Linked DNA regions of Homo sapiens. The protein of the gene in region 1 interacts with the protein of each later gene in a pairwise test. Each region holds a gene or a part of one and is shown in the gene's direction. Other genes may lie near its edges.

Region 1 (7,760 bases):
AAAAAAAAAAAGAAAGAAAAAAACAACTAATTTTTTTTTATCTATCCTATTGGCATTTTTAAAGATTATAATGAATGCTTAAAGTTTCTTAAATACCTTGAAATTAAATTGTTCTGTTGTTTTTTGTTTTTTTTTTTTTGAGGTGGAGTCTTATTCTGTTGCTCAGGCTGGAGTGCGGTGGCACAATTTCAGCTCACTGCAACCTCTGCCTCCCAGGTTCAAGCTATTCTCCTGCCCCAGCTTCCCAAGTATCTGGGATTACAGGCACATGCCATCATGCCCAGGCAATTTTGTATTTTCAGTGGAGATGGAGTTTCTCCGTGTTGACCAGGCTGGTCTCGAAATTCTGACCTCAAGTGATCCGCCTGCCTTGGCCCTCCAAAGTGCTGGGATTACAGGTGTGAACCACCGTGCCAGCCCACAGTAGCTTTAATGTAACTAGGTTTAAAAAAAGAAAAACCTAATACCAAATACATAATTTGCCCAGTGGTGAATTATACCATTTTATATATATTTGGAGGAGTAGAGTACTACAATTAGTATTTAGATATTTTTGTCCTTGTTTATTTATATTTCTCTTGTCTGAAATAAGAATTCTTGTATCCATGAAATATTAACTGATACGGCTGTATTTGTAAAATTATGAAGTAAAAATATTATGTACCTTACATCTTATTTAAAGGGCCAAGAAGAAAGGCTGTGGTGAAACATCAGTGGTACCTCAGTCCTTTTCATTTCTTTAGTTTTTTTCAGAGGTGATTCAATCTTTTGATTTACCTGGTAACTCAACATATAAAGACCTCTGACTATAAAATGTACATCTAGGCCGGGTGCAGTGGATCACGCCTATAATCCCAGCACTTTGGGAGGCTGAGGCTGGTGGATCACCTGAGGTCAGGAGTTCGAGACCAGCCTGATCAACATGGCAAAACCCCATCTCTACTGAAAATACAAAAATTAGCTGGGTGTGGTGGCACATGCCTGTAATCCCAGCTACTTGGAAGACTAAGGCAGGAGAATCACTTGAACCTGGGAGGCGGAGGTTGCGGTGAGCCGAGATAGCGCCATTGCACTACAGCCTGGGCAAGAAGAGCAAAACTCTACCTCAAAAAAAAAATTAAAATAAAATGTACATCTAAAGGAACAAATTGTCAAGCCAAAGAGCTCGTCTTCATTTCAGATATATTATACTTACTAAAATTTTTCTGAGACTTAGATATTAATTTAGTATCTATCTGCTATGCTATGCTATCTGCTATCTGCTATGGGAAATAAGCTAGTCTTTGAAAGTTATCAATGAGCAACTCCCATTGTGAGTTATTTTTAATTTCTGCTACAACTTGTTTCTTCTTTTGCCTGGTGCACGTGACACCATCTTACTCTAATCTGACAATGTCTGCCTCCCTGCCACAATGCTGCATGTGCTGCTGTATTTCCCATTTGGATACTCTCCTGTCAGGAATCAGGACCTGACAGTTGTCTGTGGGACAGTCATATGCATATGAAGGTCAAAGCTGAGTGATCATGGCACCTCTTATTCTCATACATTGAGATTAGCACAAAAATAGCCCTTTAGTGTAACATTTTGTAGTGTGATACATAAAAGAGGTTGCAAGTGAAGCATCTGGAGTTCCTCAAAAATTGCATTGCTGTCATTTGTATATTACCTACAACAGATGTGGAGAGCTTTGAATATCCAGGGCCAAATTGCAACTCTTAATCCTGTTTTGTTTGTTGTTGTTTGTTTTTGTTGTTGTTGGGTTATTTTGGGAGATGGTTGTTGTTTGGTTTTTGGTTTTTTATTTTGTTTTGTTTTGTAGCAACGAAGTAAACGAGGAGGTTGGTCCAAAGGAAGAAAGAGGAAGAAACCTCTTCGAGACAGCAATGCACCCAAATCCCCCCTTACAGGATATGTTCGGTTCATGAATGAGCGTCGAGAACAACTTCGAGCAAAGAGACCAGAAGTCCCATTTCCAGAAATCACAAGGATGTTAGGCAATGAATGGAGTAAACTGCCTCCTGAGGAAAAACAGGTAATTGTTCCTATTCCTGACTCTTTGTTTGGTTTTGATTATATCTCAGAAATAACTTATATAAGAAAAGCAAAGAGGATGGACAGTTGATTCTGCAGTTTTGTCACAGTGCCTAGGAGACCAGAATAGCAGGGTCCATCATAGCAATTTTCTCTAGCCTAGTGATTTTTAAACTATTTGCTAGAGGGGTGTGAGCAGGGAAGGAGTCTAGGACTCCCCTCAACCAAAGCAACACCACTTTTTATACGCTGAGTTCACATAAGATTGTTTTAAGTGGTTCAGTATTAAGAAATCTGTCAATAAAATGTATTCCACTGAGTTAAATGAAAAGTCGTGAATTAAATGAGAAAAAGTCACTTGACACAATTCTGCAGTTCACATAAGATTTTTAAGAAAAAATGTTACTGCTTTAATACTTTTTTTAACTAGAGTTCTGGCAAATTAACCTACTATTGAAAATAAAGCAAGAACAACTTGAATTCTTTCTCCTCTAAGACAGAAACTAACCTGATGGGCAAACTGAAATGAATCCGTTCATTAGAGAGATTTGAAAGGAATTAAGGACAAGATAGCCATGAGCTGGTTGAAGTACCACTAAAGCTGAGCAGTGGTCATGGTTGTGGGAGCTGCTTTGGGTTAAAAGTTCCCAGCATTCCCAGCATCTGAAAGATATCTGTATTTCTTTTACGTCTTAAACTCTTTTATGACTTACACTTTTTAAAAAGGATTCCAGACACACTAAAACCAAATGGAGAAATACTCTCCTGGGAATTAATTGAATTCAGAAATTTTCAAAGAGATCAGATTCAGTTGCAACTTTTGAAGCTCTGTGTTTGTGGTAGCAAGCTAGTAGAAAGCAGTGAATATCATCCATTGTTTTGGCGCTACTGTATAAAAGGATAGTGGGCTGTACATACTATGCTATTCTTTTCTTTTTTTTCTTTATTTTAAAATTAATATGTGCTCATTATTCTCTTTTCAGAGAATACAGAAATGTATAAACAAAAATGTAAAAATAACAGTGCTTATTTCTTGGGATAACCACTATTACGTAGGACAAAGGTTTTGTGTTTGTTTTTGTTTTTTTAACTTTTTTTGGAAATAATTTCAAATACACAAAAAGTTACAAACATAAAAATAATACAAAGAACATCCCAACACTCTTTACCCAGATTCACCTATTGTTAACACATTTTATTCCATTTCTCCATTTGCATATGCACTTATATGCTCAGTCTTTCTTATACTTTTGCATGCTCAGTCTTTCTCTCTCTCTCTCTCTCTCTCTGTCACACACACACACACACACACACACACACTTGCATGTGTACACCCAGACACACACAAAATTTTGTTTTAATCATGTGAGGATAAATTATATACATTGTAGCCCTTTACCCCCAGGATATTTCAGTGTGTATGTCAAAGAATATTTTCTTATATAACCATAGTGTAGTCATCAATTTCATAATTTTTCATTAACAGTGCTTTAATCTGTCATCTATATGTTGACTGAATGTCATTTCTTTATAACATTTTTCCCTTCCAAAACAGGTTCCAGTCTAGGGTCAGGTTTTGTGTTTAGTAGTCAAGTTTCTTTAGCTTAAACTGGGATATTTCCATAATCTTTCTTTTTCTTTTATAACATTGATATTTTTTTAAAATACAGTTCCCTTCTGCTTCCCCCGCTGCTTTTACCTTTAACAGAACATTGCTCATTGTGTATTTTTCAGATGTTTCCTTGTGATTAGATTGAGGTTGCGCATTCTTGGTGGGATTACTTGCATAGGTGGTGGTGTGTTCTCAATATGTCACATATGCAGGCACACAATGTCCTTTTGTTTCTCACTAGTAATGTTAATTTTGCTTACCTGGTACATTATTTAAATTCTCCTTTGTCATTAATAAGTAATCTATGGGGAGACGATTTAAGAACATACAAACAGCCTGTTTTACATCAACATTTTCCCCTAGATTTAGCATCCATTGATTATTTTTGCCTGATTTAATCTTTATCATTATGGTTACAACGTGATGATTTTTCCAACTCCAGCACTCCCTTTACATTTACCAGGTAGCCTTCAGCATTCTAATCTAAGCAAGATCTTGGCTTACTGCAACCTTGACCTCCTGGTCTCAAGCACCCCTCCCACCTTAGCCTCCTAAGTAGCACACACCACCAAAACTGGCTAATTATTTTATGTTTTGTAGAGATGGGATCTCACTTTGTTGCCTAGGCTGGACTCAAACATCTGGGCTCAAGCAGTCCTCCTCTTGCCTTGGCCTCCCAACATCCTGTGATTACAGATATGAGCCACCATGCCCGACCCCCTACCCCCATTTATTTATTTGTTTGTTTGTTTGTTTGTTTGTTTTTTGAGATGGAATCTTGCTCTGTCGCCCAAACTGGAGTGCGGTGGCACACTCTCGGCTCATTGCAACCTCCACCTCCCAGGTTCAAGCGATTCTCTAGCCTCAGCTTCCCAAGTAGCTGGGACTACAGGCGTGCACCATCACACCCAGCTAATTTTTGTATTTTTAGTAGAGATGGGGTTTCAGCATGTTGACCAGTGTGGTCTTGAACTCCTGACCTCAAGTGATCCACCCACCTCGGTCTCCCAAAATGTTGGGATTACGTGCGTGAGCCACCACGCTCAGCCTCTACACCCATTTATTGTATTTGTATGGTAACAAATCATTGGTATTGTGTCTGTTATAAATCATACTAATAATAGTATGAAGTTTTTTCTACTAGTTTATAATTTATTACTGTACTTAATTATTTTGGTGCTTAAATTGTACCAGATTTGGCCAGTTGAGTATCCCCTACATCTGGCTCTTACGCGGGACAAAGTGTTTAACATAATTTCTGAGTGTGTTTTCTGTTCATTTAGAAGCAGTATTTTTATACTTTCTTATACTTCATTTTGATGAATGAAAAGGGCAAAGCATTAAACAAAATAATCCTGGTAGATCAATGAACTTTGTTTAAATAATTAATAGCACAAAGCAATCAAAGCATGTAGATATAGGTTCTCTCAGAGTAGTCCATTTTTAGGTCCATAGGATGAGGTCATTATTTTTATGTTCTTTGTGTCTCCCAGCTTCATTGCTCCAACCTCCTGGCTCTTAAAGGGCCAATTGATGTATGACATCATCCCCTCAAAATGGGCTGGAGACAGCAAAACAAAGTAATATTCTGTTCCTTCCCTTGGGAAGACTAAGTGTGCCTATGTGGTGTGCACATCTCATGAGGATGACTCTAGTGGCCATATAGAGTTCTATCTATAGAGTTAGAAGAATAACTCTAATCATCTTCATGAATTTTTTATAAGAATGATCTCAATAGAACTTGTCTTCATTAGGTTAGAAAAGGCAATAAATATTCTAAAAACTCATAATGACCTATTTACTTTTATAATTGAGAGGTTATATTTTATTCTATTCATACAACTCTTGTTTTTCTGATTCTTTTTTAAGGCATATTCCCTATATTCTTTTCTTCCCATGTTCTAATTGTCCTGTTTTCTTCAAATAGGTAATTTAATTTTATTTAAATAGGATCTCATTTTCTTGAAAATAATTCTGTATTTCTTTCCTAGCGCTACCTTGATGAAGCAGACAGAGATAAGGAGCGTTACATGAAGGAACTGGAACAGTATCAGAAAACAGAGGCCTACAAGGTCTTCAGTAGGAAAACCCAGGACCGTCAGAAAGGCAAATCTCATAGGCAAGGTATCAAAACCAGAACCAAATGTATTTGTAGTTTGTTGTGGGTGATGGAGTGTCATAAAGCCAACTGTTAAGAGTGGTAACTATAAAAGATGTGTTTCTGTTTTTTCTCCACTATCCAGTATTCACTTACAAGCATTATCTTGAAATTTTATTAAAATCACATTGCTCTCATTTAGAAATTTCAACTGGGTTTCCGTGTCTATTATCAATGATTTTGACTTGTCCTCCGAGACCCCTGTTAGTTGCCTGCCCTTCTTTTCCTGATTCCCAGTTTAGGCATTTCTCTGCCTGTAAGCAAGCCTATCTACAAAATTATATCAGTAACTTCCCTTTAACACTTCTAAGCCTTTCATGTGTCATTTTTGAAGCACCATCCACAACTAGCCTATTTTTCCTTAGCCATTGCATCTTCTCTATACTTGGGCATCTAGCCTGCTAAAATTATAGATGTTGTATAAGTAGTCTTTGGTTTGTGTCTTCTGTCCACTCTTCCACCCTTTTCTCCCTAAAGTTAAGAACTGTGTCTGCTGTTTCTCTTATGCCTAATTATGAATTCTGTAGGCATGGGGTTCCCTTACTTTTGTTGGCTGACCGATTAATAAAGCCTTAAGGAAAAATATCATATGTTATGAGAATCTACATATACAAGCAGGTTTTATAGTTTGGCAGAGTCGTATACTTGGGTTTTGTTATTGCTTTCTTTTTAAATGTAATGTTCTCTTATTCTTTTATATTTTTAGATGCAGCCCGGCAGGCCACTCATGATCATGAGGTAATTAGCCATCTGTCTACATATCATATATATGTATTTATAATAATGTTGCTTTTTGAAATGCTATTGGATTTTTTTTTTTTTAATGAATGGCAAAGTATTTCCTATCTCGTAATTCAGATTAAATGAGATACTTTAGCTTGGGGGTTCTTAGCATATGGCAGACACTTACGTTGTGTGTCTGTCATTGAACTACAGCCCCTAACCTCAATCCTTTCCTGTGATCTGAGAATTTTATTGGCTTTAAATGCCAAAGATGGCTGGAATTTGGAATGAAGTATAGAAATGAGGGCTAGCTGAAAGCTATAACATGACCATAGTTTATCATCACCAAATACTTAAATCTGACTCTCAGAAAAGTTGTTATTTAAAGAATCCAGCATTTGCTTAAAGCGAACTGTTCAACTACAATGTCGATAGAGCACAAGCGACAGTATCTCAGGTTTGTTTTTTGTTTTGTTTTGTTTTTTGTTTTTTTGAGATAGAGTCTCACTCTGTCGCCCAGGCTGGAGTGCAGTGGCACAATCTCAGCCCACTGCAACCTCCGCCTCCCGGGTTCAAGCAATTCTCCTGCCTCAGCCTCCCGAGTAGCTGGGACTACAGGCTCGTGCCATCATACCCGGCTAATTTTCTGTATTTTTAGTAGAGACAGGGTTTCATCATATGAGCCAGGATGGTCTCGATCTCCTGACCTCATGATCCACCCGCCTTGGCCTCCCAAAATGCTGGGATTACAGGCGTGAGCCACCACGCCCGGCCCAGTATCTCAGTTCTCACACCTCCTTTCCTATTCCCTCACTTCACTAGCACATGTTTGTGTACTGGCTTCTTTCCTCCCACTTGGTTCAGCCCCATTGTTAGGATTTAGGCCTGTGTTTCTGTGTGTGTATGGGATTTAGGTGTGTGTGTTGTTTCAAATTCTGTTTTCTCCTTCAAACTTTTCTTGTTTCCTCTAACTTCCTTTAACCCTCATGGCTCTCTATACTTGTGTTATGTGCTTAGCTGATCTGACCTAGGGGTTTTGAGGTAATTCAAGGGCTCACACTCTTTGGTTGTAATGTCTTTGTGGACATACACAGTCTAGTTTCCATCTTTATATCCAACCCCATACCACCTATCATGATACCTTTGCCTTGAGAAGGTATTCCACAAATGATTATTTTATGGAATCTATTCAAAGTTGACCTGAAATAACTGAGAATTTGAACAAAAAGAATTTT
Region 2 (7,735 bases), on another chromosome or scaffold:
GGTAGGCGCTATTATCATTATTATTGTTTTTTTTTTAATTGAGACGGAGTCTCGCTCTGTCGCCCAGGCTGGAGTGCAGTGGCACCATCTCGGCTCGCTGCAACCTCCGCCTTCTGGGTTCAAGCGATTCTCCTGCCTCAGCCTCCTGAGTAGCTGGGACTACGGTCGTGCGCCACCACACCCAGCTAATTTTTATATTTTTAGTAGAGACGGGGTTTCACCATGTTGGCCAGGCTGGTCTTGAACTTCTGACCTCAAGTGATCCGCCCGCCTTGGCCTCCCAAAGTGCTGGGATTATGGGCAGTGAGCCACCGTGCTGGCTATAGGCGCTATTACTATCCCTGTCGCAGATAAAGAAATAAGACCTAATATCACAAAGCTAGGAGAGGTGGAATTGAAACTCAGCCTAGCTCCAGATTCTGCTCTTAACCACTGCACTCTGCTGGCAACAATACATAAGAATTGCCAGGTTTAAATAACATCATACATAGAAAGCAGTTAGCTTAACACAATGGTTCTCAAACTTTAGCTTGCGTCAGAATCACCTGGATGACTTCTTAAAACAGAGGTGCTGGGCCCCATCCCTAGAGTTTTAGATTCAGTGGTCTGGGGCAGGGTGGGATTTTGCATTCCTGAGAAGTTTCTAGGTGATGTTGATGCTTGTTTGAAGTGGATAGCCATAGAACAGTTTTAGGCAGGGGAGCAATATAATCCAATTTCTGTTTTAAGAGAACCTTTACTTTTTTTGTGGAGAATGGGTTGGAAGCAGACAGAGGAAGCCAGAAGACCAGTTAGATTTTTTTGAGCTTTCTGTATTCCATCTGCTTCCTGAATGGTGGGGTAATATCCCCCAAAATGAAATGTTAACAGTACTTGTCTTAGGAGTTAAAGAAATACATGATTTTTCCTAGTAAGTATGTATAAGAATGGAAGAAAACCCAACACATTTTATTACATTTGAAAAGATGTCCCGGCTGGGCACCATGACTCACGTAATCCCAGCAGGTTGGGAGGCCGAGGTGGGGTGGTCAGTTGAGGTCAGGAGTTTGAGACCAGCCTGCCCAACGCGGTGAAACCCCGTCTCTACTAAAAATACAAAAGTTAGCTGGGCGTGGTGACAGGCGCCTATAATCGTAGCTACTCAGGAGGCTGAAGCAGGAGAATCGCTTGAACCTGGGAGACAGAAGTTGCAGTTGAGATTGCACCACTGCACTCCAGCCTGAGTGACAGAGCAAGACTCCGTCTCAAAAAATAAAAAAATAAAAATAAATAATTAAAAGATGTCCCTCAGGGTTCCTTCCTGACCCTCTTTTCTCCTCAAACTGACTCTTCATGGATGATCTCATTCTCTCATGACCTCTGTTACCAATCTAGATGCCCAAACTGACATTGGCAGTTCTAACCTCTTTCCTGAGCTCCAGGCTGCCTGATGTCCAGCAGGACATCTTCACAGGCCCCTCTAACGCAACAGCACAACTTCTGGAATCATTTCCTTTCACTCCTAGATTTCCTGTGGGTTCCCCTCCTCAGTGAACTGCACCAGGCCAAACAGCTGGGAGTCACCCTTGACTCCTTGTCTGTCTCCAGTGACCAGTCCAGGTATGTCTTGCTCACCATTGTATTCTCTACACCACACACAAAGGCTGGCACATAGTAAGCTCTCCGTAACATTTGTTGAAATCATTCATTTGTATTTTTTAACAAATTTTTATTGAATGCCACTATAAATGAATGTAACCAGTCACCTAGTCCTGTCAGTCTTACCTCCTAAAGAGCCTTCCATTCTAGTCTAATTCTTCTTTGACCTCACAATCAGCCCCAGTGCAGGCCATTTCAGTTTCTTGCTTTCCAGCCAGTCTCCTTGACTCTAGATTTTTACTCCTCCTATCCTTTTCTCCTTGCAAAATCCAGAGTGATTTTCTTTAAGGCAAATGTTGCCGGGTTCGGTGGCTCATGCCTGTAATCCCGGCACTTTGGGAGGCCAAGGCGGGTGGATCACCTGAGGCGGATGGATCCGCCTGGCCAACATGGTGAAACCCCGTCTCTACTAAAAATACAAGAATTAGCTGGGTGTTGTGGCAGGTGCCTGTAATTCCAGTTACTCAGGAGGCTGAGGCAGGAGAATGGCTTGAACCTGGGAGGCAGAAGTTGCAATGAGCCAAGATGGTGCCACTGCACTCCAGCCTGGGCAACAGAGCCGGACTCTGTCTCAAAAAAAAAAGACAAATGTTTTGTCTATCTCTAACTTAAAACCCTTCCATGGATCAAAAAGTACCAAGGAAAATGATGTTACTTAAAATTATAAAGGTAGGCCAGGCATGGTGGCTCATGCCTGTAATCCCAGCACTTTGGGAGGCTAAGGTGGGAGGATTGCTTGAGGCCAGGAGTTCGAGACCAGCCTGGGCAACATAGCGAGACTCTATCTAAATTTTAAAAAAAGTTAATTACAAAGGTAACCTTAGATGAACTAAAAAGAGTGATAGAAATATGTAGTGCCAGGCCGGGCGCAGTGGCTCACACCTGTAATCCCAGCACTTTGGGAGGCTGAGGCAGGCAGATCACGAGGTCAAGAGTTCGAGACCAGCCTGACCAACATGGTGAAACCCCCGTCTCTACTAAAAATACAAAAATTAGTCGGGCATGGTGGCACGTGCCTGTAATCCCAGCTACTCAGGAGGCTGAGGCAGGAGAATCGCTTGAACCCAGGAGGGCAGGTTGCAGTGAGTCAAGATCGTGCCACTGCACTCCAGCCTGGGCGACAGAGTGAGACTCCATCTCAAAAAAAAAAAAAAAAAGAAAAAAGAAAGAAAAGAAAAGAAATATATATTGCCAATGGGGGAAAGGAACTACAGAGTGTGAGTTAAACCCATATATCCATATTTATCTGAATAGGACAATAAACAGCAGATGAATGTTTAAAATTGAGAAGTAGTGTGGCTGGGCATGGTGGCATACTCCTGTAGTCACAGCTGCTTGGGAGGCAGGAGGATTGCTTGAGCCCAGGAGTTTGAGTCCAGCCTGGGCAATGTAGGAAGACCCTGTCTCTAAAAAAGAAAAAATAGTGGTAGGATTTACAATAAGAGGATAGTTACTCCTACCCTACCCTTTCACACCTCTAGGCCCACTCCCAATTGGCAACCACTTTTAGTTAACTCTAAACAATAACGTTATGGGTATGAACACCAAAAGAAAAAAAAAAACTAAAAGTTATTTTTTGCCAATTGGGAGTGGGCCTAGAGGTGTGAAAGGGTAGGGTAGGGGTAACTATCTTCTCATTGTAAATCCTTCTGCAACCATGGGCTGGAATTACTTGAATTAAAAGCCTAAACAAACCAGAGTTTTCATGGCTGTTCATTACCTGTTAAATAAAACCCAAACATCTCAGAACCATTTTCTGTAACCTTGTTACTCAAAGTGTGGTCCCTTATTACTTGAAGTGTGGACCAGCAGCATGGCCATCACCTGGGAGCTTATTAGAAATGCAGGATCTTGGCTGGGCGCAGTGGCTCACACCTGTAATCCCAGCACTTTGGGAGGCCAAGGCAGGCGGATCACTTGAAGTCAGGAGTTCAAGACCAGCCTGGCCAACATGGTGAAACCCTGTCTCTACTAAAAATACAAAAATATTAGCTGGGCATGGTGGCGCATGCCTGTAATCCCAGCTACTCAGGAGGCAGAGGCAGGAGAATTGCTTGAACCCAGGGAGGCAGAGGTTTGTAGTGAGCCAAGATCGCGCCACCACGCTACATCCTGGGCGACAGAGCGAGACTCTGTCTCAAAAAAAAAAAAAAAAAAAAAAAAAAAATGCAGGATCTCAAGCCCCACCCCAGATTTACAAAATCAGAACCTACATTTTAACAAGATCCGCAGATAATTCATACGCACAGTCAAGCTTAAGGAGCATCTTGCTTGTAAGCCCAACGTGGACCTCTTCAGCTTCAGTACTGGTTGCCCTTTTCTACTCCGTTAGCCTGAATTCTAGCCCCTGGGGGGGGGGGGTGGTGTGTGTGTGTGTGTGTGTGTGTGTGTGTGTGTGTGTCTAGCTAAAATCCAGTCATCGTTTTATACCCAATTCCTCTGCTCCAGGAAGACTTCCAAGCCCTCTGCAGCTCTCTGTTACCGCTGTTCCTTAAACTCCCACATCTCTGACTGAAGCTGCTTAGACTTCATTCTGCAAACATGTATTGGGCGCCTGCTGTGTGCCTGGCTGGATTCAGTGCCAGGGTGGGGCGAAGGCGCTGAGGTCTCCGAGTGCTCTTTCAGGTCCAACTCCAGAATCGCCCAGCCCCACGCAATCCAGGGCCAGAGGTTGTGTGCGCAGCACTCGAATACATCCACAGACGGTGCTGCGCGGCTTTTCTGAGTGTTACGGCGCCCTCCTCCCGCCCCCGCGCCGCGCGGGCGGGGACCCACCGGTTTTGCTCCGCTTTAGCAGCGGCGAAGGGAGGACCCCCGGGAGCCGGTCCCCGGCGTCCGGTCGCCCAGCCCTTTTCAGGCTTGGGCCCGCATGGAGGGGACCGTGGAGTCCCAGACGCCTGACCTGCGGGATGTGGAGGGTAAGGTGGGCAGGAAGACCCCTGAAGGGCTGCTCCGCGGGCTGCGAGGCGAGTGTGAGCTGGGAACCTCTGGCGCCCTGCTGCTCCCAGGGGCGTCTAGCACCGGCCACGACTTGGGGGACAAGATCATGGCGCTGAAGATGGAGCTGGTGAGTGCTGAATCCATGGGCCAAGGGGACGAGTCCCTAGTGTAGGGCCGGGAGGGACGAACTCATGCTCCCAGAGTTAAGCTGGAGAGGAGGTAGTTAAAACTCTCCACCTAACTGCTCAGAATCCCTCCCAGATCAATCCGTAAACGCTGGGGTGGAGATGGAGTGACGTCCATTACTTGTCCCCCAAGAGTGAGTGGGGTGTTGATGGTCCTGAGGACTTGGGTTGGGAGCAGTGGGTTTTGGAAGTTATTCCTGCCAAATAATTGGGAGGAGAGAGATGAGGACTGGGAAGTACTGAGAACCCAACGCAGCACAAATTCCCCCCGCCTGTATGGGCCACCTATTCCCCGCCAGTCCCCGTTGTAAGGCAACCGGTTTTTTCTCCTTCTGCTAACCGGGAAAGGGTTTAAGTTCCTGTGAGGCCGCAGTGTTCCGCACAGAAAAGAAGTGGGTAAAGGGGCCTATCTGCTGAAAACTACCTGGACCAGGGGCACTGAAAACCTTCTCCGTTTCCTCTACATCCCCCAGCCCTACTTAAAATAATGGAAAGTTCCTAGACCCATAGCAGGGACAGAGAGTAGCAGCACCACTGGTGCTGATTCCCTCGCCTCAGACTCAGTCTCCTCCCAGCCAGTCTTCCAGGTAAACTGGATATTTGGATCTCATCTGTACATTCTTGGGGAGAAGAGGAAACAGCAACCCTCCCCTTTCTCTATTGCTGCTGGTCTAGATTCAGAGCCAAAAGGGCAGCCGAGGCCCTGGCAGGTTCCCCAGGGCCCTGATTCCGGTGAAGTGGGTGATTTACACCTGCCACTACTTTGCAGCCAGTTCTGGGGAACTGAGGAATTGCCATCGGCTTCCTGGCTCACAACCAGGAGCCCACAGTGAGTACGTCAGCTAAAGTCTTCCTGTGTGCCCAGCCTGTGCCAAGCTGGTCTGTGAAGGAGAAGGGGAAGGAAATCATGGGGGCTCTGAGACCAGCCAGGGCTCCGACGCCTGAGCTGAGAGGCTGGGAAGAGAGTCTGGTGGGTGGAGCAGTCAGGAAAGGCCCCCTGGGAGAAGGACTTGAATGCCAAGTGTGCACTTGGCCTTGAAGGTTGGAGGTGAGTGCCCAATTCTCCAGAGCAAGGCTGTGACTGTACCCACCTAAGCGGGGGCTTGCCTTTGCCTCACTGTACAAACTTTAGCTCAAGGCCTAGTAAGAGCCTATCTAGACTGTCTACTTGCTTTGAAAACTTTCACCCAGTGCATGTGCCAGGCAGCTTGCTGAGCACTTTACATGATGCTCTCTTCATCTCCACAGTAACCCTGTTAAGTGATATTTTATAGATGGAGAAACTGAGGCACAGGGTGGGCATGGTGGCTCACGCCTGTAATCCCAGCACTTTGGGAGGCCGAGGCAGGCAGATCGCTTGAGCCCAGGAGTTTGAGACCAGCCTGGGCAACAAAGCAAGACCCTGTCTCTACAAAAAATACAAAAATTAGATGGGTGTTGTGGTGTGTGCCTGTAGTCCTAGCTACTCTGGAGGCAGAGGCAGGAGGATCACTTGAGCCCAGGAAGAGGAGGTTGCAGTGAGCTGAAATCGCACCACTGCACTCCAGCCTGGGTGACAGAGCTCAGAGCTAGACCCTGTCTCAAAAAAAGAAGGGGAAGAAGGGGAGGAAGGGAGGAAGGGAGGGAGGGAGGAGAAAAGAAAAGAAAACAGAGGCACAGGGAGTTTAATAACTGCCCAACATCACGCAAAAAGCAGGGCCATGATTTGAACCCAGATCATCTGACTGCACTTTGCATCTTTACTTTGAGACCTGCTTTGTGCCAGATAGTCTGAACATTTTATGTCATTGAAATGAGAAAACTGGTCATCATTTCTCCCATCTTACAGATAAAACGTGCTTGCAGATTCTGAACTCACATAGGGAGTCAGTGGAAGAGCCACGCCCAGTCTCTGGCTCTCTTCTCTGCCTTGGTGGAAACTATCTGTAAACTTTAAGGGGCTGCATTTAACTTTTGATTTTGTCTCTCTGTATTCTTGACCCAGCTTGCCTGGGGCCTGAGGCTGCCCGAGAAAGGGCACAAGGGAGGGAGCCTTCTGGGGCCAGAATGAGGAGAGATCCCCATCCTATTTTTTCTCCTTCCTCAGGCCAGGATGTTATTAATATTAATCTCTTCTTGTGCTCTGCCCTGCCTACTGGGTTGCACCCAGGAAGGACAAGGGGTGGGGCAAGGGATTTGCCTTCGGGCTACTGAAGGCAGGACTGGTTCAAGCCCTCTAAGGACTGTCCTTCAATTGTTCCTCTCCCAGCTCTCCTTGCACAAAGGGGGAAGGCCTACCCTTGAGGCCAAGGTCAGTCCTGCCTCTAGGCCTCGTCCCTCCTGCTTTCTTCCTCTACCCTCCATTCAAAGGTTGAGTGAACAAGCCAGACTGGGATATGTGGGAATGGGAAACAGTGGCAACTTCTTCTTAGTTCTCCCACCCAAAGAACTGTTGCTATGACAACCCACCTCCACAGAGGCAGTTTGAGAAAAAGCTTTAGGCAAGGAAGAATGCACGGGTTCAAGTCTTGGCTCTGCTTCTGAAACGTTTTGTGGTCTTGAGCAGCACTCTGTCTCTCTCCTGGCCTCAGTTTTTCCTCCTTTTGGTGGAGGGGGTAGAGGGAGATGGGGACTGTGAAACCAGATGATTGTTAAGAACCTTTATAGTAACAATATTCTGATAGTCCCCGCTCTGGGAGCTCGGACTGGGATTTCCAGGCTTTTACCCTAGGGCCTGATTTATATTGAGCAATGAGGAAACCATACAGGACCCCAGCGCTGGGCAGAGAGTCTGGTATGTAGATGTTAAGGAGAGGAGTAGGGAGCCTGAATCTCCTTGGAAGGAGAATTGGGTTTGGAGTCGCCTCTGAGGCTGCATCTCTCCTGAGCTGTTTATCCTATACTCTATTTTCTTCAAGAGATGGTGTGAAAAGAGTGTTTCTTTTTCTGGCAAGAAAACCTTGCTTTCTTCTATTCTGGGAGTGATGCTGTCA
Region 3 (7,912 bases), on another chromosome or scaffold:
AGTGCAGAATCAGGAGCGGAGCCCAGGCCTGGCAGCCTCCATGGCACAGAGCAAGATGGGCCCCACCGCCTCTCTCCTCCATGTTCATCTTTGGTTTCCTCCTTCCTGGCCTCTGCTCTGCTCCAGCCTTGCTAGTGAGTGACTCCTGAGGACCTCCTTCTTTGCTGTCCATCCTAAATAGGGCTGCCCCTCTGTCTGCAGCTCTCCCTCCTGCATAAGAAGCCTTGGCCCCTCCTCTGCTGCCTGGCTGCTTTCAACATCTCGCCCCGCCTCCCCATTGTCTGTGATTTCTCTTCACTCCACCCAGGCCTCAATTTTCCTCACTCCCCTGGGATTTCCCTGTCCCATGTCCCTGGTGGAGTCCCTCAGGGCTGGGTGGCTTGTCACTGCATGTCTTTCTTCACTCTTTTCTTGGTCCCATCCCACAAAAGCTCTCAAAACATCACCACACCTGCTCCTGCCCATGCCCCACAGCCAGCCCCTGGCAGCCTCATCTCAATGATCAGTTCTGGGTTGTGTGTGTGAGTCCTTGGGTGGGGGTGTTTTGGTGCTCTGTCATCCAGCACCGCTGGGGTAACTCTCAAGTATAAGGGGCCATGTGGGATGCTGGGAGGACATCAAAAGACACAGGGGACTTAGTCTTGCTTTCCAAAGGCTTCCAGAGTGATTGAGGGGCCAGGAAACACACAAGCACATGCATGAAAATGAGCCAACAAATGCATCAATATGTACTAAGTCTGGCAGCAGCCGAGCTTGGAAAAAGAGACCAATAGAGCACTTGCCCGATGTGGACTGAGGAAAACTCCCTGGAGGAGATGAGATCTGGACCTGTCTGCTGCCTGCTTGAGCGAGAGATGAAGGCATTTGCCCACAAGCCCTGATGGACCAAAAACAGATTCAGGACCAAATGCTCAGGAATTGAGATCTTTGGTGCCCCAGAGCTTGACTATGGGTAGGGATTTGTGGCAAGTTGCCGAGGCAACCAGAAGACCTTTCAGAAAAGAGAAGAGTAGAAGTGGGCTTGGAAGACAGAGAGGAACAGGGATGGAAAGGGAAGAAGAGGGTTGATCAGTCTGGGCAAAGCACGAGAGTGAAGGGGTCAAGGCGTGAGGCCGGGGGAGTGGGTGAGCAGGGTAAGATGTAGGTGGTGCTGGTGGTGAGAGCAGGCCAATGACAGAAGGAGCCCATGTGATGCGGCGGGCTTGGACTCTGGAGTGAGGCAAGCGTGGCTTGTCAGTTACCTGCTGGATGACTTTGGGCACATATTTCAACCTCTATAAACCTAAGATGCCTTTTCTTTAAAATGGGGCTAAGAGCTCCCACGACGCAGACTTTGTGTGGTATTTAAATGCAATGTGGCTCCTAACAGCATAGTTGCTGCCTGTAGATGTTAGTGTCTCTTTCTTTCTCATTTTGTCTTTATTTCATAAATGCACAGTACATAAGTAAGCCAGGAGAGAGTGTGTGGCTCACACCTTTCCTGCATGTGGTTCTTCATATCCCACACACCCACACTGATCCTGGGGACATCACAGGAGATGACGGGCCTGGTCTGGCAGCACTGCAGCTCCAGCTCTGTTGGGCTGCCTCGAAAGTGGGCAGTGGAAAAAGAAAAGGAGTTTGATTCAACAATTGGAAGAGTCTCAGGAATTGACTTATGACTTGGACACTTTTTTTTTTTTTTTTTTTTTTTTTTACTTTTTTGGGCCTGTGCTCTCACTTCTCTGTGAGGCAGGTTAGATGATGTGACCTTTGAGGCCCCATGGATGAGAACATTCTGTAATTCTCTGTGTACTTGTTTATAGGGCCCAGTTCCACTTGCCTGTCTTTGAGCCTCTTCCCGGTTCAGGGAGGAATGTCACTTGAATTGAAATCAGAAAACCCAGATTCTGCTTCCAGATGTGTCTTTTCCTAGCCGGAGTGTCTAGAGGAAGCCACTTAATCTCTGAGAATCAGTTTTCTGTTTCATGAAATGGGTTGAGAACAGCTTGATTGCCTAGTTCTCAGGGCTCTTGTGGGATGCTCTTTGCATATGTGTTTGGTGGGGTGAGCTGTGCAAATGTAAGCTATGGTGAGGTTTATGGCACTTATTCCTGCTAGTCCTGCATTTCTCCCTTCTCACAGGAGCACCTGGGGTATGTTTTGCAGCTAAGTTGTCTACCAATTCCCTGACCATTCATTCAAACCTTTGATTTTTCTGTATGTCAGTTTCTTAGTTCAAAGATGGGAGTGTGGATCACTGCCAAGGTCTGTTTTTGGCTGGCACACACATGCACACAAACATGTGTGCACACAAACATGTGTGCACACACATACTCACACCCCTCCAAAATGCTAGAAGGAATCGATTGTGCAGAACAATATGTCTCATGAGGGAGTATGCTGAACTAAAATAATTTTGATTGCTTGTCAGAAAATGATTAGGCAACAGTCATTACCATGCCAAGACTGTCCCAGTCTCCATTGTTCCTAACAAGACCTGAATTACTCATTCCCTAAAGAGATGGTTGGTTTAGCAGCCGAAGGATTTTAGTGCTAGGACAGAGTCCCAGACAGCAGTGCCACAGTGATGGCGAGGGAGAGGAGTAGCAGGGGAGCGGTGAGGGGCACTTTCTGGAGGAGGGTATAGGGCAAAAACTGGGAGGAGAAGAGGGACAAGGTTCAATAGCGGAGTGCAATGGAGAGGACCGACACAGCCAGCCCGATTCAGAGCCACAGAGTAATGGGACCAGATGATCTTCACAGACTCCCTTTCTCCCATAGATCTTGCACACCATAGTGGAGACTTCCCATGTACATCTATGGTTTGCCACTTACAGAGTTACTTGGAGCCAGCTGAAGTTAGAGCTGGCTTCTCCCCTTTGAGTCTTCAATTCTGTGTTTATGTGCAGGCCCGGGGACCATGCCAGGCTTCTAAGAAGTCTTCGAATGAAAGTCTGCTTGGGCTTCTAGTGTGTCCAGATCTCAGTGCCACTATTATCCACTGATATTGATCAAGTGCTGCTCTCCAGGAAGACCCCTGAGGTTTCCTGGTCCATTGCAATGCATGCTGGGTACTCTTGCACTTGGATGGAAGTAAAATCTCCTCACTAAACTCTGTGCCACCAAAATCTCCTTCTCAGTGTGAATTGAAGAAACATTTTCCAAGACTTGCATGTGCCAGGAGCCAAGGACTCAGAGTGATAAAACAGGCCTTCTGCCCTCAGAGCTCTCTGTGGTGGGGCGCTTCCTGTGCTGTCTGGCTTTACACACAGCAGGCAGAATGACTTGAATTCGGCTGCTGTGCTGTCGTACAACATGCTGTTTAGGATCTTGCACATGATAGCTAGGTATTCTTGCTTCAAATCGCAGGCACCCCACTTACCAACTGTGTAGACTTGATCACGTTATTCAACCCCTGTGTCTCTGCTTCCTCATTTTACAAATGGGGAGAAAAATAGCATCTATCTCAAAGTTGTGAAAATTAAGCAAGTTAATACATATGTGCTACGTAGAACAGTGCCTGGTACATGGTCAGTTTTTGATACATGTTAGGTATTATCATTATTATCACCTCCAGAAACAATTTAAACTTCTCATATAAGGCTCTCCAGACACCTCTCATTGTCTTCCCTTCCAAATCTGCATTTATCTCTCTCTCTTTGCAGTCCAGTGTGAGGCTTGAATCACCTATCAAGCCTCACCTCCACCCCTGTGCTTTACAAAATGTCCTAGAGCTTCTATTTACTCGTCTCACTGCTCTGTGGGCTTTTTCACTCAAGGGCGTTTGCATGCTATCCATTGCTACCTGTTTTCTATTGCTGGTGTCTGTCTCCTGCTCTATCTTTGAAGAAAAGAAACAAGAAAAGGAATAACTGAGAAACAGAGAAAAAAAATGTCTCTCCCTTCTGGTTCTTCCAGACCACCCACTCATCCATCTTGTTCAATGACAGCTTCTCTTCCTTTAATTAATCACTGTGGTATATTTATAAAGCTTATATTTATGAAAGACCTTTTAATTTTTTAGTTATTAAAGCCCTTTCTCTTTGTCAGGTTGTAACTGAGTGAGCTCTGGAGTTTGGAAAGAAGATCTTAGAAATGGGCCAGAGAGCTCCTTCTGAGATCCAAGCACGGGGAATTGCACCTGCTGTGCATGGTAAGAGAGTGTGCTTGGTAGCTCACAAAGGCAAGGTGAGAATAGAAACTTTCATGCCTTTTTGATGGGGGTTATGAAATCCTACCAAGAAACACCAGGTATCAGATGTGGGGTCCTGTTTTCCCAAAGCCACAAATGCTTGAAGGAAGATCTTGTGTGATAAAATAATTACCACATGAACCAATCTTGCATGCACAGCAATTTTGAGAGCCCATCCTGGGAGCTAGGTGTGTAGTGTTTATCGTATTGTTGAGGCTCGTAAAAATCTTGTATGGCTGCAGGCAAGCCAAACCCTTGACAGGCACTGCATCTCCGCTGACTCTAGAAGACCAAGCCCAATTTCTTCCCTGTATATAAGGGGAAGTCTCTATGCTTGGGGTAGAGGAGTGTTTAGCTCCTTCCCTTACTCTACCTTGCTCCTACTTTTCTCTAAGTCAACATGAGTCGACAGTTTAGTTCCAGGTCTGGGTACCGAAGTGGAGGGGGCTTCAGCTCTGGCTCTGCTGGGATCATCAACTACCAGCGCAGGACCACCAGCAGCTCCACACGCCGCAGTGGAGGAGGTGGTGGGAGATTTTCAAGCTGTGGTGGTGGTGGTGGTAGCTTTGGTGCTGGTGGTGGATTTGGAAGTCGGAGTCTTGTTAACCTTGGTGGCAGTAAAAGCATCTCCATAAGTGTGGCTAGAGGAGGTGGACGTGGTAGTGGCTTTGGTGGTGGTTATGGTGGTGGTGGCTTTGGTGGTGGTGGCTTTGGTGGTGGTGGCTTTGGTGGAGGTGGCATTGGGGGTGGTGGCTTTGGTGGTTTTGGCAGTGGTGGTGGTGGTTTTGGTGGAGGTGGCTTTGGGGGTGGTGGATATGGGGGTGGTTATGGTCCTGTCTGCCCTCCTGGTGGCATACAAGAAGTCACTATCAACCAGAGCCTTCTTCAGCCCCTCAATGTGGAGATTGACCCTGAGATCCAAAAGGTGAAGTCTCGAGAAAGGGAGCAAATCAAGTCACTCAACAACCAATTTGCCTCCTTCATTGACAAGGTGAGTTTCTCTCTCATTGCACTGGTAGGGCTGCCGCTGGTCCACTTGGGATTGGTGCAGTCAAAACACAGTAGGTTTGAACCTCAAGTTTCCATGTTTACATGATTAAAAGGATGTTTTGTGGAATGGTCTCCTAGGAGATATGTTAGATGTATGCTTGTGAATGGTGTTAATGACTCTCTCTTTGACAAAGGGTTCGTGGTCGACCTAAAGGTGGGTCAGTGTGACATTAACATTTAAGTGCTTTTTATTCAGCTCTTGAGCGGAATTGGGACTCATATCTGTTGAATGAAGATAATAGAAATGGGGCTAACTGAACTTTCCAGGGTGCAAGTGAGAACCCTGGAAAGGTCTTCCTAACCATAGAAAGGGAGTTGAGTGTGAACATAGTATAGAGTGTTATTGTAGCAGAAAACATGTGGTCAGTCAGTGCCAAACATCTTTTGCTGTCAGAGGGGAGCTCTGCCTTCTAATAATTTTACATTGGTACTGGATGAGGCTAGAGTTTTTTTATACTAATATCTCCAAAAATCAGCTCTAAAAAACTCAGATAAACCATTTTTTTAATTTTTTGCTTAATCATTAATAGTGCCAATCCAAGGTTATCCACAACAAATTTCAAATCCAATTTTGAATTTTCCTGATATACTTTTGAAATGTGTGTGTGTCCTGGGGATGCAAACCAGTTTTTATGGTAATATACCTAACAAAATTTTGGAAGGCAAATCTCTTAAATACCATGCACCTATTTCAAAACATAATTGCAATAATTCTGTATGCGCTTTGCTATTGGTATTTGTTTAGTTACTCCCTTCCAAGCCCTCTCTGAATTAACAAGTTGGGTTTTATTATGCAGATGATATTAACTTGATCATCTTCTTCCTATTTCTCTGTCATGGTCAGAAGATAGGAATTGAGGTTCTTTTCCAAATGAGGCACAGTTCTCCATGGCTATGAGACTCCATTTATGCATCAGGAGTAAAGGGGTCTTGTGTTTTTAGGTGAGGTTCCTGGAGCAGCAGAACCAGGTACTGCAAACAAAATGGGAGCTGCTGCAGCAGGTAGATACCTCCACTAGAACCCATAATTTAGAGCCCTACTTTGAGTCATTCATCAACAATCTCCGAAGGAGAGTGGACCAACTGAAGAGTGATCAATCTCGGTTGGATTCGGAACTGAAGAACATGCAGGACATGGTGGAGGATTACCGGAACAAGTAAGGGACCCTGTCTGGGCAGTTCTTAACTTTTGCTGTAAAAGAGTTCCAGAAAGTAATAAGCTAAGATCATGAAGCAGCATGTAGCTATGTCTTTTCTTAGGTTAGAGGCACATCAGTTTGACATTTTCAGAAATCTTCATTTTCTCAGGAGATGGAAATAGTCTAGTGGTTTTATTGCTCAGTAGAAAGTAGTGGCCAATATGTCCTAGGTTCATAATAGAAAGGCAGTGATAGGCAATGCCACCTTTAGTTTAGAATGCTGGACTTCAGGTCTTACCACCTCTGAATCTCCTAATTGTTTCTGCTTTCCTGCAGGTATGAGGATGAAATCAACAAGCGGACAAATGCAGAGAATGAATTTGTGACCATCAAGAAGGTAAGCAAATTCTGTAGGACGGAACTCACATTTGAAATAAATAAGGGAAGAGGGTCTCCAATTACTAAGCAGAAAGCAGCCATGATATGGAGAGCCAGGTAGTAGACCTGGGGAGTATATGGAGTGGGGCTATATTTTCACATCATCATGGACCTGGACTGATCCAGGCACTTGGCTTCTCCATATTTCCCAGCACCTTACATAGTAAGTGGAGTGGCAGATTCTCAGCAAGCCAGGCACACTCCCTTGATGGTGCTATCCGGGGGTGGGACAGTTAGGGAACTGTGATTTACCTGGGGCAAAAAGGAGTGGAGTAGACCCAAAGCTCCTTTTTTTGCTTGGAGAATCCCCTCACAGGTAATGAGAGGGACCTGCCCTGGAGAGAATGTGCCTTCATGATGTCCCTTGTTCCTCTAGGATGTGGATGGTGCTTATATGACCAAGGTGGACCTTCAGGCCAAACTTGACAACTTGCAGCAGGAAATTGATTTCCTTACAGCACTCTACCAAGCAGTAAGTCTTCCAGTTTCAACCAAGTTTATCTAAATGGAGAGTTTTTAAGCCTGAACCCACAACGATTCAGAAGAATAGATATTTATCTTTTATTTTCTGACTGCTTTCTCTGTCTAAGTTGTTTTTTGTTTTAGTGCTGTAAGAGTCACTAACCTATTATGTCTTGCAGGAGTTGTCTCAGATGCAGACTCAAATCAGTGAAACTAATGTCATCCTCTCTATGGACAACAACCGCAGTCTCGACCTGGACAGCATCATTGCTGAGGTCAAGGCCCAGTACGAGGATATAGCCCAGAAGAGCAAAGCTGAGGCCGAGTCCTTGTACCAGAGCAAGGTGAGTGGGCTGAAAGCCTAGCCAGTTTCCCTGAAATGGCTTGTCTTGCTATCCTGTGTTATCTCATGTATGTGTGCCTGTGCCATGCTGAGTTCTGCCTACATTTAACAAACGCTATCTACCATCTTTAGTATGAAGAGCTGCAGATCACTGCTGGCAGACATGGGGATAGTGTGAGAAATTCAAAGATAGAAATTTCTGAGCTGAATCGTGTGATCCAGAGACTTAGATCTGAAATCGACAATGTCAAGAAGCAGGTATGTGCTTTCTCCTTCTACCACTCAGCTGTATGGAATGGGGGTAAC
Region 4 (7,478 bases), on another chromosome or scaffold:
TCTAGTGCTGCAGAAAGGGTAAGTCTAGCATGAAGTACTTTGTTTTCATCTTTCAGGTTATAAAACTTTTCAGTTTCTAGGGGATAAATTAAAATAGTAAATGAATATTTGTTGCATTTTTTTCTATTTTAACTGCATTTGCTCATTGTAATTGCTAAATAGTAAAATTTATCCCCACTTTCTTTAGGCTTCAACTTTTGTTTATATAATCAGTTTTTCTTTTATACTGTTACAAAATGCCTTTCAAGCTTCTCTTATATTTTCAAAAGCTATGAAACCCATCAAAATTATAAGGACTTAAATTTATGTAATTTTTTTATTTTTGGATACTTAAATTTTCTATTAATTTGCTATAAGTCATTGAAATGTTATAAATAATTTTCTCATATCTACTCTTTGTTCATTTTATTTCAGCCTTTAGAAATAAGAGGGCCATATGACGTGGCAAATCTGTATCCTTTTCTGAGTAAAAAGTTGTTGACATTGTCTTTCAGGAAATTTTGAATTTGAAGTCGTATTATAGTTGAACATGTATTTTTCTCAACCTTTTACTGTAAGTTTACCAATTAATAACTTCAAAAATAAATTATATAACATTATAGAGAGCTTTATGCTTCTGTTTTTTAATTAATCATGAGATAGAAAAGAGGGAATGAGGGACTTCATATGATAAAAGCTTAGAGTTAAATGAGTCTTTTCTCAGATGCATGTTCCAGTTGGACTAAGAACTGCTGTTGAATTAATTAGCCTCTCAAGATGACCAGGTTAGCTGGCACTTTCTGTTATGTTTGTGTTAGTCTCGTGTCCTTGGGTGACTCTGGGTTGAAATCTTTAATGCTCCCCCAAGAGGCTTGCTGTTTGGGCTCTCTGAAAGTGACGCCAAGGCTGCGGTGTCCACCAACTGCCGAGCAGCGCTTCTCCATGGAGGTAAGCAAGTTCTTCCAGTACAAACTGAATGGTCATGTTAAAAGCAAGTCATTTTTACAGCCATACCTATTTTTATTGCCCTACCCTACAGAGTTCCTTTGGGATCATCTTTTCTCAACCTGTTCTAAACACAGTCATCAGTGTTTTCTCACCCTCACTTCAGGCTTTACTTTCTAAAGTTTGTAGAATGAATATAGTTTTCATTACAGAAATAAGTATTGAATAGTTCTTCCAGCTATACATGTGTGCTCCTGCCGACATTTTGATAGGCTTCTAATCTCCCTTCCTTCTTCTCCCTCACCAGAAGGCCATGCTTTCCCTGTTGAAAATCTCTGTTTTAGAGAACGGATATGTTAAAAATATGTGTTAAACTATTTATTAGGAAAACAAAACCAGCAAATACATTTTTAAAAATCCAACTAACAAAACATAGACTGTAACTTTTACATTTATTATAACTCAGAATGTTTCTTTTCTCATGTTTGCTTACATGGTCAAGTTGTGTCCAGACTGTACCTTTTTTATTTTTTTTTCTTTTTCTAAATAGAGACAGAGTCTCACTATGTTGCCCAGGCTGGTCTTGAACTCCTGGGCTCAAGCAATCCTCCTACCTCAGCCTCCCAAAGTGCTAGGATTACAGACATGAGCCACCATGCCCGGCCAGACTGTACATTTTTTACTCACATTTTGTATATGTACCTTTTCACTGACTGAGTTTCCTGCTCATCAGATGTTAAAAATTGAAAGTATGCTGAAACTTTGGAAAATGAAAGTGAAATTTTATTAAAACAATTTAAGCTTTTGATCACTGTTTTGTCTTCGTTATCTTTATAATTCTTAGGACTAGTTGTAGTGGTTAAGAAGCAATTTCATTGATATCACCCAAGTGAATTTTAAACTTCAAAGTAGATTGCTACATATAGACTGAGTTATTTGTCATATGAATAGCTAGGTTATTGAGGGCTTGTGTGTTGGGCTTTATTGATCTGATTTCCACTTGAGAGAACTGCTTATGTATTGGCTTGCCGTAAATTAGATGATTTTGCTTTTAGTTTCAACATTTTTAGTTTGAGATTTTTGTATTATGTAGCCTAGAACTCATCACATAAGCTTTGGGAGTGGTCAAATTAATGGAGATTTTGAATAATGATTTTCTTGAAATTAGGGAACAGTTGGTTCACACTTTGATAGTTCTGTCATTATTTTGATCTATTTTAAATAAACATTCATCAGGATTTTGAGTAACAGTTGGGGTTCCAAAATGGACTAAACAAGAAACAGAAACTAAAATATAAATACATACATAATTTTATATATAGGAAAATAGGAAGTCCTGCATTTGACTTTAAGAACTCAGCTATTCAGCATATAACACATAATATGTAAAGTATTTTTTTTTAGAATTTCTTTTTGTGGGTACATAGTATGTGTATATATTTATGGGGTACTGAGATATTTTGATATAGGCATGCAATGCATAATAATTACATCATGGAAAATGGGGTGTCCATCCCCTCAAGCATATGTCTTGTGTTATAAACAATCCAATTATGCTTTTTTAGTTATTTTTAAATATACAATTAAATTGTATTGACTATGGTCACCCTCTTGTGCTATCATATACTAGACCTTGTTCATTCTATTTTTTTTGTACCCATTAACCATCTTCACCTCCCTCTCAGCCCCCCACTACCCTTCCCAGCCTCTGGTAACCATCCTTCTACTTTCTGTCTCCAGGAGTTCAGTTGCTTTGATTTTTAGATCCCACAAACAAGTGAGAACATGTGATGTTTGTCTTTCTGTGTCTAAAATCAGGCTTTTATAGAAGCTAAACTTAAAGAAGACTTGTGAACTTTGGGTGGCATTACCATTCACCCCAGTGTACCCAGGACAGTTCTAGTTTATGCCTGCTGTTTCTGTGACCTTATTAGCACTTCTATTCCCTGAAGAGAGTCCTAAACTAGATGATAAAATATGGTTACCCTGGTTTTCGTTGCCATTGGGATCAGTATGAGACGGTAGTATGATGTGTTCTTAAGATTGCTAATTCAGCCTAGGTAATATTAGAAGAAATAAAGGATTCTGAGACAAGGAAATTCAAAGCCTCGTTATTATACTCTCATTGATGAAATCTCAGCCGGCATCTGTATCATTCTGAGTGCCACATTTAAGAAGGACAGCAGTGCACTGAAACACTATTGGAAAATGTCTACTCAGTCCTTAAAGGGTCTGGAAGCCTCATGATGAGAGGAATCACGAGGGTGGTGCAGACATGGATACCTGGCAAGCAGAAGAGTTGGGACACATGGTAGTTAGCTTTCAACTTGGAAGGCTTGCCACAGGAAATCAGAATTAGGTTCTTTGGGGGTCCAGAAATCTAGAAACCAATGAATAGCAATTCTGAGGAGGTTGTGGGGAAAGGACAGAGGAAAGAGGCCCAAGGTCAGGGTCTTTGGCCTGTGATTGATAAAGTTCATGCCCTCAATCAGCCCCTGGACCAAAATGAACCTGTTGGGGACACCTGCCTTAGCCCCTTGTGAACAAAATTATTCACTCGTAGATAATCCTTTAGATTTTCCTTGGCAAGATGATTAAAGGAAATACTATATGTGAAAACATTTTATAAACTAAAGCATACACAAATGTAACGTCTTGCTGTTACCAAGAAATGCATTTATTTTTAAAAGACACTAAAGAAATTAATGCATTTTGTTAAAAAGTGCTGATTTTCATAATGTTTATATTTCAGTTGATTTTTAGACTATGGGTACAGAATCAGTGACATAAATTAATAGCTATAAGTGTGACGTTTTTCATTTGGTGAAATGGAAATCATTGACAGTTTTTATTTTGAGGTTCTTATTATGTTGGCATTTTAATGACCTTGAGAGCAGTTTTATCCCTTTTACAAATAAAAGTGTTTTAAAATAATTGGCAGAGTAGATTTACTAAGTTAATCTTGATAAATGGGAAAATAATGCTTAACACTTTATGGTTGACTTTACGTTTATTACTTGAAATAAGGAATAATTCATAGCTAAATTTCTGTTCAAGTTCTTTTGATTCTGCCACCTTTGTAGCTAATGGGTATCTCTCTCTTTCTCCATAATCCCTTTCCATTTCTAAGGACAGAGTTTGGGTCTGTTTTCATGACACTATGGCCTTTCATAAGTTACCCTTCCAAACTCTATTTTCTCCTAATTTTTTTGTATTCCTACTTCACATCAGCCATATTGTCCCCTAAACTATTTTACCTAGGTTCTTCTTATCTTTCTCTCCATGCCTTTGTAAAGGAATATTTCTCTTTTTCTTACTCCGTTTACCCTATTCTGAGTAGTGTCACCTTTATATAATACCTCATTGCTTTAACCAGGCAGTTAATTCTTGTGGATGCCTCCATTCCTATTATATTTGCTCTTATTGTGCTTCTCGCATGCATGTAGTATAGGGAAAAGCACTGTCTGTTAGGAATCTTAATACCCTCTGTATGGACACAGTGCCTAGCCTATTAGTAGGTTTCTAGGAAAAATTGGTTAAATTTAAGTTGAACTCTGCTGCCAGCCTAATCTAAGCATTTAATAATTTCTATTTATTCTTTGTTCATTGTCACCAGTTAAAGAGATCAATAAATTTATGAGTGATTTTATTCATTAACTCAACTAGTATTTACTGAACACATTTTGCATAACCAGGCCATTGTTGAGTGTTGGCAATATAATGCAATTGATTCTTCAGAGGTACCTTGATGTTCTAATAAGAGAGATAGGGTACATGCTGTAAAATGAGGCAAGCATGTGCTCCACATGGGAGCCATACACTTGATTGCTGTGTTTGCTCTCTTGATTTGTCTGTCTACCATATATAAAGTGTCTGCTACATCAATGTCTGTGACTGGGTTCTGGCTACATAAGATGCCATGGACAGACCATTAGAGATAACACTGTCCTGCAGTTTTACCCATGAGGTAATCTTTAGGAATGAATTAGATGTTAATAATATACTGATATTTGTGTCTGTTGGGAAAAAAAGATAATGACGGTAAATGGCACTAGCAGCCATAGCAGTTCATTATGGCTTATCATTTGCTATTGCTGTAAGCCAAAGTAATATGTTAAACCACCTCATTTTAAATTATGTCTTAACTTCAAGCACAGTGGTTTCCCTGTTTGTTTTACAGAAACTAGAAAAACTGCTTTTGGAATTATCTCTACAGTGAAGAAACCTCGGCCATCAGAAGGAGATGAAGATTGTCTTCCAGCTTCCAAGAAAGCCAAGTGTGAGGGCTGAAAAGAATGCCCCAGTCTCTGTCAGCACTCCCTTCTTCCCTTTTATAGTTCATCAGCCACAACAAAAATAAAACCTTTGTGTGATTTACTGTTTTCATTTGGAGCTAGAAATCAATAGTCTATAAAAACAGTTTTACTTGCAATCCATTAAAACAACAAACGAAACCTAGTGAAGCATCTTTTTAAAAGGCTGCCAGCTTAATGAATTTAGATGTACTTTAAGAGAGAAAGACTGGTTATTTCTCCTTTGTGTAAGTGATAAACAACAGCAAATATACTTGAATAAAATGTTTCAGGTATTTTTGTTTCATTTTGTTTTTGAGATAGGGTCTTTGTTGCTCAGGCTGGAGTACAGTGGCATAATCACAGCTCACTGCAACCTCAATCCTGGGCTCAAGTGATCCTCCCGCTTCAGCCTCTCAAGCAGCGGGAACTACAGGTGTGCACTACCACACCTGGCTATTTTTTTTTTTTTTTTTTTTTTCCCTTGTAGAGACATGGTCTCACTATGTTGCTGAGGCTGGTCTCAAACTCCTAGGATCAAGCCATCCTCCCGCTTTGGCCTCCTAAAGTGCTGGGATTACATGAGCCACCACATGCAGCCAGATGTTTGAATATTTTAAGAGCTTCTTTCGAAAGTTTCTTGTTCATACTCAAATAGTAGTTATTTTGAAGATATTCAAACTTATATTGAAGAAGTGACTTTAGTTCCTCTTGTTTTAAGCTTCTTTCATGTATTCAAATCAGCATTTTTTTCTAAGAAATTGCTATAGAATTTGTGGAAGGAGAGAGGATACACATGTAAAATTACATCTGGTCTCTTCCTTCACTGCTTCATGCCTACGTAAGGTCTTTGAAATAGGATTCCTTACTTTTAGTTAGAAACCCCTAAAACGCTAATATTGATTTTCCTGATAGCTGTATTAAAAATAGCAAAGCATCGGACTGAACCAACTTTGGAAATAATTTATTTTTATAATGGGATCATGTTAAGTAGAAGTAGCTTTTTATGCAAATACATGCATTTATGCAATATTAATGTAAGGGCTCTAAAACAATGGAGTAGAGCCAGAGGTATAACTGAATAAGAAATTTTTTTAAGCAAGAGAAAGACAACTGTTCTGCGGGTTGGAGAAAATACAATTTTTTTTTTTTTTTTTGAGACAGTCTCGCTCTGTCCCCCAGGCTGGAGTGCAGTGGCTCGATCTCTGCTCACTGCAAGCTCCGCCTCCTGGGTTCATGCCATTCTCCTGCCTCAGCCTCCTGAGTAGCTGGGACTACAGGCGCTCGCCATGTATTTAGCAGAGACGGGGTTTCACCGTGTTAGCCAGGATGGTCTCAATCTCCTGACCTCATATTCCACCCGCCTCGGCCTCCCAAAGTGCTGGGATTACAGGCGTTAGCCACTGCGCCCGGCCCGAGAAAATACAGTTTTAAAAAGAGAAAGCTTTATAACCTCACCAATGAATACAAATGTTTAAATAAAATATTGATTAAAAAAACATTAAAAGTGCATCATGACCAGGTGAAATTTATTCTTTTTTTCTTCTTCTTTTTGAGACAGGGTCTCACTCTGTCACCCAGGCTGGAGTGCAGTGGCACAATCTCGGCTCACTGCAACCTTTGCCTCTTGGGCTCAAGCCATCCTCCCACCTCAGCCTCCCAAGTAAGTGGGACCAGAAGCATGCACCACCACATCCCAGCTAATTTTTGTATTTTTTTGTAGAGATGGGGTTTTGCCATGTCCAGGCTAGTCTCAAACTCCTGGCAGATTCAAGCAGTCTGTCCGCCTCAGCATCCCAAAGTGCTGGGATTACAGGCACAGGCATGAGCCACCATACCCGGCCTTCCAGTTCTTTTTAATGCAGTATCCTTTATCATATTCATAGGTCAAAAGAGAAAAATCAGAATATTTTTAATAGATGCCAGAAAGACATTTAATAAAGTTAAATCCACTCCTGATTTTTAAAATGACAACAATAAAAACCCATGGCAAAATTAAAGTAGAATAATATTGTATGCATACATATATATGTTCATATGTGTCTGTTTTTTGTGTATATTAAATGTGATGGCTCCAAAAGCATTTTTGACTACCGCTTGGCCAATTTGATGGATTAACCTACTCATTCCTTCTGTAAAACTGAGGCTGGTGCTGCTGAGGCCACACACCAAAAGTCTGCCACTTCCTTGTGTGCCAGTTTGCTTTTTTCCTTCACCCTGCTTAAGTTCACCAAAAGTCAGCTGTGTTTATTCACAAATCTG

Evidence for each region.
Region 2: the proteins of HMG20A (region 1) and LURAP1 interact in binary tests that used the Homo sapiens proteins (3 or more experiments, as listed by UniProt).
Region 3: the proteins of HMG20A (region 1) and KRT1 interact in binary tests that used the Homo sapiens proteins (3 or more experiments, as listed by UniProt).
Region 4: the proteins of HMG20A (region 1) and RPP30 interact in binary tests that used the Homo sapiens proteins (3 or more experiments, as listed by UniProt).

The regions. Positions count from the first base shown.
Region 1 is NC_000015.10:77,465,275-77,473,034, forward strand, and holds part of HMG20A (high mobility group protein 20A), read left to right. Parts: intron 1-1,820; coding exon 1,821-2,033; intron 2,034-5,635; coding exon 5,636-5,768; intron 5,769-6,508; coding exon 6,509-6,540; intron 6,541-7,760. UniProt on the Homo sapiens protein: Plays a role in neuronal differentiation as chromatin-associated protein. Acts as inhibitor of HMG20B. Overcomes the repressive effects of the neuronal silencer REST and induces the activation of neuronal-specific genes.
Region 2 is NC_000001.11:46,198,920-46,206,654, forward strand, and holds the start of LURAP1 (leucine rich adaptor protein 1), read left to right. Parts: upstream 1-4,414; 5' UTR 4,415-4,507; coding exon 4,508-4,705; intron 4,706-7,735. UniProt on the Homo sapiens protein: Acts as an activator of the canonical NF-kappa-B pathway and drive the production of pro-inflammatory cytokines. Promotes the antigen (Ag)-presenting and priming function of dendritic cells via the canonical NF-kappa-B pathway.
Region 3 is NC_000012.12:52,677,011-52,684,922, reverse strand, and holds the start of KRT1 (keratin, type II cytoskeletal 1), read left to right. Parts: upstream 1-4,515; 5' UTR 4,516-4,574; coding exon 4,575-5,165; intron 5,166-6,166; coding exon 6,167-6,381; intron 6,382-6,699; coding exon 6,700-6,760; intron 6,761-7,177; coding exon 7,178-7,273; intron 7,274-7,442; coding exon 7,443-7,607; intron 7,608-7,738; coding exon 7,739-7,864; intron 7,865-7,912. UniProt on the Homo sapiens protein: May regulate the activity of kinases such as PKC and SRC via binding to integrin beta-1 (ITB1) and the receptor of activated protein C kinase 1 (RACK1). In complex with C1QBP is a high affinity receptor for kininogen-1/HMWK.
Region 4 is NC_000010.11:90,895,466-90,902,943, forward strand, and holds the end of RPP30 (ribonuclease P protein subunit p30), read left to right. Parts: coding exon 1-18; intron 19-414; coding exon 415-452; intron 453-847; coding exon 848-927; intron 928-5,104; coding exon 5,105-5,214; 3' UTR 5,215-6,726; downstream 6,727-7,478. UniProt on the Homo sapiens protein: Component of ribonuclease P, a ribonucleoprotein complex that generates mature tRNA molecules by cleaving their 5'-ends. Also a component of the MRP ribonuclease complex, which cleaves pre-rRNA sequences.